Homo sapiens: one gene and its partners. The protein of the gene in region 1 interacts with the protein of each later gene in a pairwise test. Each region holds a gene or a part of one and is shown in the gene's direction. Other genes may lie near its edges.

Region 1 (3,500 bases):
AGTGCAAATGAGATTTATCCTTTGTCCTGGGCTCTAGGACTTAAAAAAGAATCTTTGAAATTTTATTCAGATCACAATTGTGCAGTAAAAGTGAGTTGCAGAGTAGTCAGAATCCCCAGTTTTTCAATATGTGACTTCAGAAATAATGTGGCATAAATACCCCAAGGGGTTTAGACTAGAGTATAAAAACATGGTTTTGGACAGGCATGGTGGCTCATGCCTGTAATCCTAGCACTTTGGGAGGCTGAGGTGGGCGAATCACTTGAGGTCAGGAGTTCAAGACCAGCCTGGCCAACATGGTGAAACTCTACCTCAACCAAAAATACAAAAATTATCGGCTGGGCGCGGTGGCTCATGCCTGTAATCCCAGCACTTTGGGAGGACGAGGTGGGCGGATCACAAGGTCAAGAGATCAAGACCATCCTGGCCAACATAGTGAAACCCCGTCTCTACTAAAAATACAAAAATTACCTGGGCATGGTGGCGGGCGCCTGTAGTCCCAGCTACTCGGGAGGCTGAGGCAGAAGACTCGCTTGAACCCAGGAGGTGGAGGTTGCAGTGAGCTGAGATCACGCCATTGCACTCCAGCCTGGGTGACAGAGCGAGATGCTGTCTCAAAAAAAAAAAAAAATTATCTGGGGGTGTTGGTGGGCACCTGAGGCAGGTGGATCCCTTGAATCCGGGAGGCAGAGGTTGCAGTGAGCCGAGATCGCGTCACTCACTCCAGCCTGGGCAACAAGAGTGAGACTCCATCTCAAAACAACAACAACAGCAACAACAAAATAACAACAACAACAAAAACATGGTTTAAACAACTGGCATGGGGAGATACATCCTGCTCTTCCTCACAGTGGATCCATTGGAGTGGTTGGTTAGAAACATTTAAGGCCCTAAGATAAGGATTCCTACTAAGTGGCTCTATCTATTCTTCAAGAGGGCAGCTGTGTACAGGATGAATCGGAACCACAGAGGCCTCTGTGTCATTGTCAACAACCACAGCTTTACCTCCCTGAAGGACAGACAAGGAACCCATAAAGATGCTGGTAAGAAAGTCTGGAACAGTTTATCAAATGCAAATTGGGGATCTTAAAATTATTTTTTATTTTCACATTTTCTTTCTGTGACTTTTATCTTCCATATACGTGTAAGGATGATATCATGTTTCTGAGCCTCTTATATATCCCTGGGGAGTCATCAGTCTGCTAAAGAGTGGCAAGAATCTTTGACTATTCACAATTCTGAATAGAGGAGAGCATGTACTGGGGGAGAGCCTGCTGGATTGGCACGAGACAACTTGGGCGTGAGCTCCAGCTCCACCACTAACTAGGTGTGTGATCATGGGAGAGTCAAGAGACCTTGGCTTCTTCAACTGTGAAACAGGATGAAACACTGGCCACTGCCGATTCTCAGGACTGTTGTGACAACACTGGGTATTACGTGATAGGAGATTCATTGTAAGATTTTATGGTTATGAAAATAAAAATAATCCAAAGCTTTAGGCTATTTGCTGTGCAAATTTTGTAACTATTAGCATTGTTTCAGTTTTTTTTTTCTTTGAGACAGAGTCTTGCTCTGTTGCCCAGGCTGGAGTGCAGTGGTGCAGTCCCAGCTCACTGCAACCTCTGCCTCCCAGGCTCAAGCCATTCTCGTGCCTCAGCCTCCCGAGTAGCAGGGATTACAGGCGTGAGCCACCACACCTGGCTATTTTTTGTATTTTCAGTAGAGATGGGGTTTTGCCATCTGGCCAGACTGTTCTCAAACTCCTGACCTCAAGTGATCCGCCTGCTTCGGCCTTCCAAAGTGCTGAGATTATAGGTGTGAGCCACTGTGCCCGGCCTTGTTTCAGTTCTTCATTTTGTTTTGCATCATTTTATTATTTCCCCTTTCTCTCTCTCTCTCTCTTTTTTTTTTTTTTTTGTTTTTAAACAGAGATCCTGAGTCATGTGTTCCAGTGGCTTGGGTTCACAGTGCATATACACAATAATGTGACGAAAGTGGAAATGGAGATGGTCCTGCAGAAGCAGAAGTGCAATCCAGCCCATGCCGACGGGGACTGCTTCGTGTTCTGTATTCTGACCCATGGGAGATTTGGAGCTGTCTACTCTTCGGATGAGGCCCTCATTCCCATTCGGGAGATCATGTCTCACTTCACAGCCCTGCAGTGCCCTAGACTGGCTGAAAAACCTAAACTCTTTTTCATCCAGGCCTGCCAAGGTGAAGAGATACAGCCTTCCGTATCCATCGAAGCAGATGCTCTGAACCCTGAGCAGGCACCCACTTCCCTGCAGGACAGTATTCCTGCCGAGGCTGACTTCCTACTTGGTCTGGCCACTGTCCCAGGCTATGTATCCTTTCGGCATGTGGAGGAAGGCAGCTGGTATATTCAGTCTCTGTGTAATCATCTGAAGAAATTGGTCCCAAGGTGAGAGCTCTTTTTTTTCTTCCATTTGTAATTAATTAGTTTTATTTATTTTTTATTTTACTCTCATTCAACACCTTTGGTAAGGGTGAGAGTTCTACGTTGTTCTATCCATGTACCTGTTCAACCATCTGCCTACCCTCCTGTTTATCTATTTATCCATCTATCCACCCATTCATCTATCCATCCATCTATCCACCCATTCATCTATCCATCCATCCATCTGTCCATCCATCCATCCATCCAGCAACCTTGTATTGAGTACCAGCCTGGACCTGGAAAGGAAGATACAGAGTTAAAAAAAGACAGAGTCCTTGCCCTCAGGTTGCTTACAAGCTAGAGGGATAGACAAACAAATAGACGGGGAAGGGCATCCCCAGCTGGTAAGTGCACATTGTGAAGTATAGGTGTTATGGGAACATGCAGAATGAGTACCTTGCCCAGATTTGAAGGATCAGAGGAGGCTTCTAGAAATGACAAATAGATGTTAGGTAAAGAATCAGGTGAAAGATGTGCTGGGCAGAGGGAATAGCATGAACAAAAGCATGGGGGCCTTTTATTTGTTCGTTTATTTATCACTCACTCTTACGTCCTGAGCACCTATGTGCTATCTTTGGACTTCTATTTGCCACTGCTCTGACAGCTTCCCTTCTGTCTCTGCCACATGCTGTCCTCTTGGCACCTTTAGCCATACCTAGAGGCCATGGGCTCCTCCATGAAAACGTCTCCAAAGTTGCCATCTCTGGCCCACTCATCTCTGAATTCCTGGGGGCAGAGACCCTGTTTCATTCAACTTTATATCCTCAGCCCCTGACCTGATATATTGTGAGCTTGTTAAACATTTGCTGGGCCAATGAATGACTTGCTTGAGCCTGTCTCATTAACATCCCGCTAGATATCCTACCTCTGTTTAGCCCTTGGACCTCACATTCAGCATGCATGTTTCTGAGCTCATCTTCCCAGCTCTCTCCAGGAGCTCCTACTCCTGAATTTCCATTTGAAGGAATGGCCATAGTGCTCTTCTGGGAATTCAGGATTGGAACCTTGAGTCAACTTTGCTTTTCTCTCTTCTTTACCAGCC
Region 2 (3,500 bases), on another chromosome or scaffold:
TTACTGATTGAGTGTTTTAGTATTTTCTGAATATTAAACTACTAGGGATTCAAATGATAAAATTTATAATTTCAGAAACAATACTTGAGTATTATTGGAAGAGAACTAATTTGACTCAGTATGTATCTAATTTGGAAATTATTAATATGCAAACATTATTGAGCCTTTTGAAAGGTTTATATCTCCCGAATGCCCTTTCACTTCAGCTCTGATGATTGGATTCCTGTTTTACTTACTGCAGAATTAACTGTACAATATCATGCTTACATGTTCAGTGAGGATGAAGTAAATGGGCATTATCAAAGATTGTTGATGGGGTTGTAATTAGTATAATCCCTTTTGAGGTCACTTGGGTAGTACCTATCAAAATAAATGTGCATGTTATCCAGCAATCCCATATCTAGAAATTTATCTGACTGAAATATTCTGACTTGTGTGCAAAGACACACACAGGTACACAAACATATAATGGTAGGGAATTGGTTGGCTCGACTGGTACATTTGTAACTCTTCAGCCCTAGAGTAAAAGTAAGGGAAATCTATCTGTATGACATGATATGGCAAGATGCCCCTAGCATGTTACGTACAAAAAGGCAGATTGTATGTGTCCTGGATGTGTCACAAGAAGATGTGTATACTTATCCATTTAAGAACTAATTTTAGGTATACAGAAAAAGTCTGGAAGATTATACCTCAGTTATTTATGTTTGCCATGGGAGAGGAAATTTTTACTTTCTGTGCATTTATATTTAGGATTTTTGTCATCAGGAGTTATCACTTTTTGACTGAATAAAAGTTTTTAAAATATGCTCACATTAAAGTTTTTCAAATTTTACAATGAAAATGACAATGACAAATCAGTAGAAAAAGAAATGCATGTATCAAATGATGATGTGAACTATCAACACAATTAAATTTGTTATTGCTTTTCTGAGTATTATTTCTTTAATTGAGAAGATTCAAATTTTGGATGAAATCATGGAGGGAGTTAATTTAAAGATTACCTTTGCTTTTGTCTTGAGTCCTAGATGTCCTCCTAACCTAATTCTGAAATAGATCATTGTATTCAGCTTGTTAATAGATTTTTTTTTTTTTCTGAACTGCTGTTTTTCCAACTTTGTTTTAAGGAATAAACATCATCCTGACCTTCATCTCTGGGCTTGTTCCGGGAAGCGAAAAGACCAAGATCAAATAATAGCTGGGGTGGAGAAAAAAATAGCTCAAGACACAGTTAATCGAGAAGAAAAGAAATATGTACAGAACCATAAAGAACCACCTCGTTTGCCCCTAAAAATGGAAGGAACTTATATAACAAGTGAGCATAGCTATCAAAAGCCACAAAGTTTTGGTCAGGACTGTAAATCTCTCGCAGACCCTGGGAGCTCAGATGATGATGATGTTAGTAGTTTGGAAGAAGAACAAGAATTCCACATGAGAAGTAAAAACAGTTTACAGTACTCAGCAAAAGAACATGGAATGCCTGAAAAGGTAAAACTAGTTCATTTTTCTTTGCTTGGAAACTATGAGAGAAGAACAAAGGAAAATTTTATAAAATAAGGCATACTGAATTCCCAGATTTTAGTTGTATTTCCAAGTTCCCCAGTACCTTGTTAAAGTAAGGAGATTTTTTTGTTTTCTCTACAGGAAAACACTGGCCATTTGAACATTTGATTATCTCCTAATTCAGAATTGTAGTAATTCAATAAACTGTTACTCTAACAAAAGTTTCAATTGTATAAGTACATTTCGATGCTTCTAAAAAATGAACCACATTGTATTCAAAACGAAAATGTCAGTGTGTAAGAATGTGAAAGTACATATGGGTGTAATGATTTGTCTTCCTCTTTATGTGAGTTAGATAAAAGGTGGCACTCTAATTGTCTGTTTAAAAAATTTTAGCATGTTTGTCAATGCATCCCACTATTCAGTAAGGTGAATTCTGACAGATCTATGTGCATTGGACATCTATAAACTTATTTCCTGTTCACTGGGATTATCTTAGAAATGTACCTTTATTTTTTACTGATTTTCAATTAATGAGGCCACTTTAAAATTAGATGTTTTTTTTCTGCATTCCTTAACAAGTAATTACCATAAATAAGTACTTAAGTGAATTGGAACGTTTGTATTTCGTATCATAAAGTTTGTGGTAAGTTATTTTGTTTAATTAATATCCCATGTGCAAAATGAGTTATCTCTGGCAAATCCAAACGCACATTGTGTGTGTGTGTGTGTGTGTGTGTGTGTGTGTGAAGCAGTTTGTACTTTTGAAACTTGTAAAAGGTTTTTGCCTTTCCCTCCCTTCATTGATTTACTGTACTATAACAGTAAAGTCCAGTCTGTAGTTAATTAGATTTTATACTGGTCTTTGGAAACGCTCTTGATTTCTTTTCATCATTGCTTTCCACTCTTATGTCCACTTATATCACCAGCTGAGATTAATTGAGGAAGAGGCCAGTCTAAATTAATCAGGAATTCTAATTACACAATAGAATTAGTGACTTCATTTATTTAGCGCATTTTATTGAAGCCTTCTTGCCTGTGTAGCACCATGCGAGGCATAGTGGAGGGAGGTGGTGGGTGCATCAGCTCTTAAGAACCACCAGCTGGAATTTGGTTATGTAGCAGTACTTCTTTAAAGATACCCCTGGAGTCAGATTGGATCTCACTAACTGTTACCAGTGATGAGGTGTTTCCTGTATCCTTAACTCAATGACTGCATTTCATCCCGTTCTTTGTGTTTATTTTCCAATGGTCCTTTGGAGAAGAATCCAGCTGAAGGGAATACAGTATTTGTTTATAATGATAAAAAGGGCACCGAAGACCCAGGAGACTCACATCTTCAGTGGCAGCTCAATCTCCTTACACACATAGAAAATGTGCAGAACGAAGTTACCAGCAGGATGGACCTAATAGAAAAAGAAGTCGATGGTAATTTAAGAAAGAACTAAAATACAGTTACTATAGTGAATTTATTGTTACTATGAAGAAGTTACTTAAAATTCTTAAATTATGGGATGAAAACTGCAGATACTCTCCATACCGATGGGGCTTTATTACTCCCTTTGTATTGTATTTAACACATTTGGGATCTTTTACGCTTAAAACAATGTGACCGGGTATGACCTTAGGTTGTTTTTACTTTTTTAAGGTGGATATTTATTAAATACTGTCTATTTGCCAGGCTCCAGATAGATCACTTATGGAATAAATTGATTAGTTTCATTGAACTAAGCTTTCTTTGGAAGTCAACATAAGGAATTTAAGCATGTTTGAAATGTGAAAACATTTTGAATATTTTTTACTTTGGTTAGCACTTGTTAAATTAACAAAAACTTCTACAAAGTTAAGTAGGTAAACCTTAAGTGGTTTTCTTTTATATTTTAAAATTGTGTCATCACACAGGAGGCCTGAAAAGTGGGCAAGAAAGATACTATCACTACTTTATAGTTGAGAAACTAGAGTAACTTAGACTACCTGATTCTCAGTCCATGTTGTTC
Region 3 (3,500 bases), on another chromosome or scaffold:
GTGATAACTGCTCACACTGAGTGAAAGACTTTTCTGCTATAGGACAGAGGTGGGACAGCACATTTCACCTGGGGGGATGGTGGGGAAGGGCATCAGAGAAGCCTTCTCTGAGAGGTGCCATGTGATGGAAAAGTTCACCAAGAAAGCCGGGGAGAAGGGCATTCCAGGGACAAGGAACGGCATGTGCAAATTCCTAGAGGCCAAAAGGAGCATGGTGGCTTTACACACGTTCTGGCATGAGCTTGAGAAGAGGGCAACTGAGAGACGGGGTTTGGTAAGGTGGGCATGGGGCACTTGGGAAGGGATCTGAATATTGTATTGGGAAGTCCGGCCTTGATTCTTTCACAGATGGGGCTCCATGGGAGTAGCATGGAGAGGAGAAACACAGTTGGGTTATGTATGAAATGATATTTCTGGTGGCTAAATGGAAGATGGAGGGGAGCAGCAGGGAAGCGGGGATGAGAATGGAGTCAGGGTGTCCAGTTAAGAGGCAATTGCAGGCCAGGCTTGGTGGCTCATGCCTGTAATCCCAGCATTTTGGGAAGCCAAGGCAGGTGGATCACCTGAGGTCAGGAGTTCAAGACCAGCCTTGCCAACACGGTAAAACCCCATCTCTACTAAAAATACAAAAAATTAGCTGGGCGTGGTGGCAAGCAACTGTAATCCCAGCTACTCGGGAGGCTGAAGCAGGAGAATCACTTAAACCTGGAGGTTGCAGTGACCTGAGACTGCGTCATTGCACTCCAGCCTGGGCTACAAGAGCAAAACTCTGTTTAAAAAAAAAAAAAAAAAAAGGCAATTGCAGACTGAGTGTGGTGGCTCGTGCCTGTAATCAGCATTTTGGGAGGCTGAGGTGGGTGGAGTGCTTGAGCTCAGGAGTTCAAGATGATAGTGTTATAGGTCAGGGAAGTGGTAATCATTTTCCCCGTCCACTTGAGTGGATGGGAAAGATGATTAAGAAATCAAAGCAGGCAGGGCGCCGTAGCTCATGCCTGTAATCCCAGCACTTTGGGAGGTCAAGGTGGGCGGATCACTTGAAGTAAGGAGTTCAAGACCATCCTGGCTAACACGGTGAAACCCCGTCTCTACTGAAAAGACAAAAAATTTAGCCGGGCGTGGTGGCGGGCGCCTTTAGTCTCAGCTACTCGGGAGGCTGAGGCAGGAGAATGGCGTGAACCCGGGAGGTGGAGCTTGCAGTGAGCTGAGATCGCACCACTGCACTCCAGTCTGGGTGACAGAGTGAGACTCCATCTCAAAAAAAAAAAAAAAGAAGTCAAAGTAGTAGAAACTGCTGATAGACTGAATGTGGGGGGTTAGGGAGATGGAGGAAGCTGAGTGACTCCCAGGTTTCTTGCATGGGGGACTGACTGGATATAAAATTAGTTGTGGGCCGGGCACGGTGGCTCATGCCTTTAATCCCAGCACTTTGGGAGGCCAAAGCGGGCAGATCACTTGAGCTCAGGAGTTCAAGACCAGCCTGGGAAACATGGTGAGACCCCTTCTGTACTAAAATTACAAAAGAAAATAGCTGGGTGTGGTGGCATGTGCCTGGGGTCCCAGCTATTCGAGAGGCTGAGGTGGGAGGATCGCTTGAGCCCAGGGGACAGAGGTTGCAGTGAGCAGTGATTGCACCACTATACTCCAGCCTGGGTGACAGAGCAAGACCCTGTCTCAAAAAAAGACAGATGTGGCACTGAGCAAACCCAGGACTCTTGTCCAGAGCTGAGAAGGGCTGCTAGCCCCAGTGACAGAGAAAGGCCCTCTGACTGGAGGACACAGCCATCTCTAGGGTCCTGGCTCTTTGTCCTTTAACAGTCCTGTGTGCCGAGGTGGCAGACCTGCATCTCCAACACGGATGACGCCCTTGGCTTTGCTTTGGGGTCCCTCTTCGTGAAGGCCACGTTTGACCGGCAAAGCAAAGAAATTGTGAGTCTACAAGATTCTTTCAACACTATGCCCTCAAAATTGACTGTTCATGTATGTGCAGACATATAGAAAAACAACGGGAGCCAGGCGCGGTGGCTCACGCCGGTAATCCCAGCACTTTGGGAGGCCAAGGCGGGTGAATCATGGGGTCAGGAGTTCGAGACCAGCCTGGCCAACATGGTGAAACCTGGTCTCTACTAAAAATACAAAAAATTAGCCGGGCGTGGTGGCGGGTGTCTGTAATCCCAGCTACTTGGGAGGCTGAGGCAGGAGAATCACTTGAACCCAGGAGGCGGAGGTTGCAGTGAGCCGAGATCGCGCCAGTGCACTCCAGCCTGGGCGACAGAGCAAAACTCTGTCTCAAAAAAAAAAAAAAAAAAAAAAGAAAAGAAAAGAAAAACAACTGGATGTAAATTGATGAACAAATGAAGTAGTGCTGCTTTGGGCAGTGGGATTATAAGAGTCCTTTAAAGTTGTCTATGTGTTTATGTTTAACTATATAACTAGAAGAAATATTTATTTATTAGGATATGATAATGGATGTGCTTAAAGTATTACCTGTAAGGATGTTTATGGTTTTTATGGCAATGTTGTTTATAATAGCAGAAAATGAGAACAGGTTAAATGTCCAACTATAGGGTAAAGGAAAAATAAATTGTGGTTAGGATGGGTTGTGAGGATCCTTAAATGGCTGATATATCTTTCAGCAAAAAAAGTAGGTTACAAAAAATATATACCCTATACAACATAATTCCATATTTTATATGCATATCAGGGGAGGGAAAAACTCTAGAAGTGGGTAATCAAAATGTTAAAAGAACTTATCTATGAATGAGTGCTTTATAACTGGTCTGTTCTTCAATTCTCAATTTTCCAAATTTTCTGTGAATGTCCTCTTTTCATAATCAGATAAAAATCATTGCACTAGGCTGGGCGTGGTGGTTCACGCTTGTAATCCCAGCACTTTGGGAGGCTGAGGCGGGTGGATCACGTGGTCAGGAGTTCAAGACCAACCTGGCCAAGATGGTGAAACCCCAGCTCTACTAAAAATACAAAAATTACCCGGGCATGATGGCGGGAGCCTGTAATCCTAGCTACTTGGGAGGCTGAGGCAGGAGAATCGCTTGAACTCGGGAGGCGGAGGTTGCAGTGAGCCGAGATTGCGCCACTGCACTCCATCCTAGGTAACACAGCCAGACTCTGTCTCAAAAAAAAAAAAAAATCATTGCACTATATTAAATTATAATATAATTTGATGAACTTATTGTCAATTAAAATGTGTACTTAATTAAGAAAAAAGCCAGCCACAATCCCAGTACCTTTACAAATGGTGTTTCCTTCTCATCGTCTCCAGGTGCTCAGCCGTATTTCTTTAGTCTAGACGTTCCCATTTCCCCTGGGTGGACAGGGATGGGGCACCAAGGGTGGATGGGTGGGGCAGGGATGCATTCAGTGCAGGGGAAGGCTGACTTTACCTCCTCCCTCCCAGGCAGAGGGGATGATCAGCGAAATCCGGACCGCATTTGAGGAGGCCCTGGGACAGCTGGTTTGGATGGATGAGAAGACCCGCCAGG

Evidence for each region. Proteins that work in one complex are often made in the same cells at the same time.
Region 2: the proteins of CASP10 (region 1) and PHF20L1 interact in a two-hybrid assay, tested with the Homo sapiens proteins (one large-scale study listed by BioGRID and IntAct).
Region 3: the proteins of CASP10 (region 1) and ECE2 interact in a two-hybrid assay, tested with the Homo sapiens proteins (one large-scale study listed by BioGRID).

Annotation. Positions count from the first base shown.
Region 1 is NC_000002.12:201,207,141-201,210,640, forward strand, and holds part of CASP10 (caspase-10 isoform 1 preproprotein), read left to right. Parts: intron 1-934; coding exon 935-1,043; intron 1,044-1,149; exon of another isoform or gene 1,150-1,327; intron 1,328-1,929; coding exon 1,930-2,422; intron 2,423-3,500. UniProt on the Homo sapiens protein: Involved in the activation cascade of caspases responsible for apoptosis execution. Recruited to both Fas- and TNFR-1 receptors in a FADD dependent manner. May participate in the granzyme B apoptotic pathways.
Region 2 is NC_000008.11:132,841,388-132,844,887, forward strand, and holds part of PHF20L1 (PHD finger protein 20-like protein 1), read left to right. Parts: intron 1-1,127; coding exon 1,128-1,488; intron 1,489-2,765; coding exon of another isoform or gene 2,766-2,768; coding exon 2,769-2,931; intron 2,932-3,500.
Region 3 is NC_000003.12:184,286,022-184,289,521, forward strand, and holds part of ECE2 (endothelin-converting enzyme 2), read left to right. Parts: intron 1-1,815; coding exon 1,816-1,926; intron 1,927-3,415; coding exon 3,416-3,500. Other genes in the region: EEF1AKMT4-ECE2 readthrough transcript protein, read left to right, coding at 1,816-1,926, 3,416-3,500. UniProt on the Homo sapiens protein: Converts big endothelin-1 to endothelin-1. Also involved in the processing of various neuroendocrine peptides, including neurotensin, angiotensin I, substance P, proenkephalin-derived peptides, and prodynorphin-derived peptides.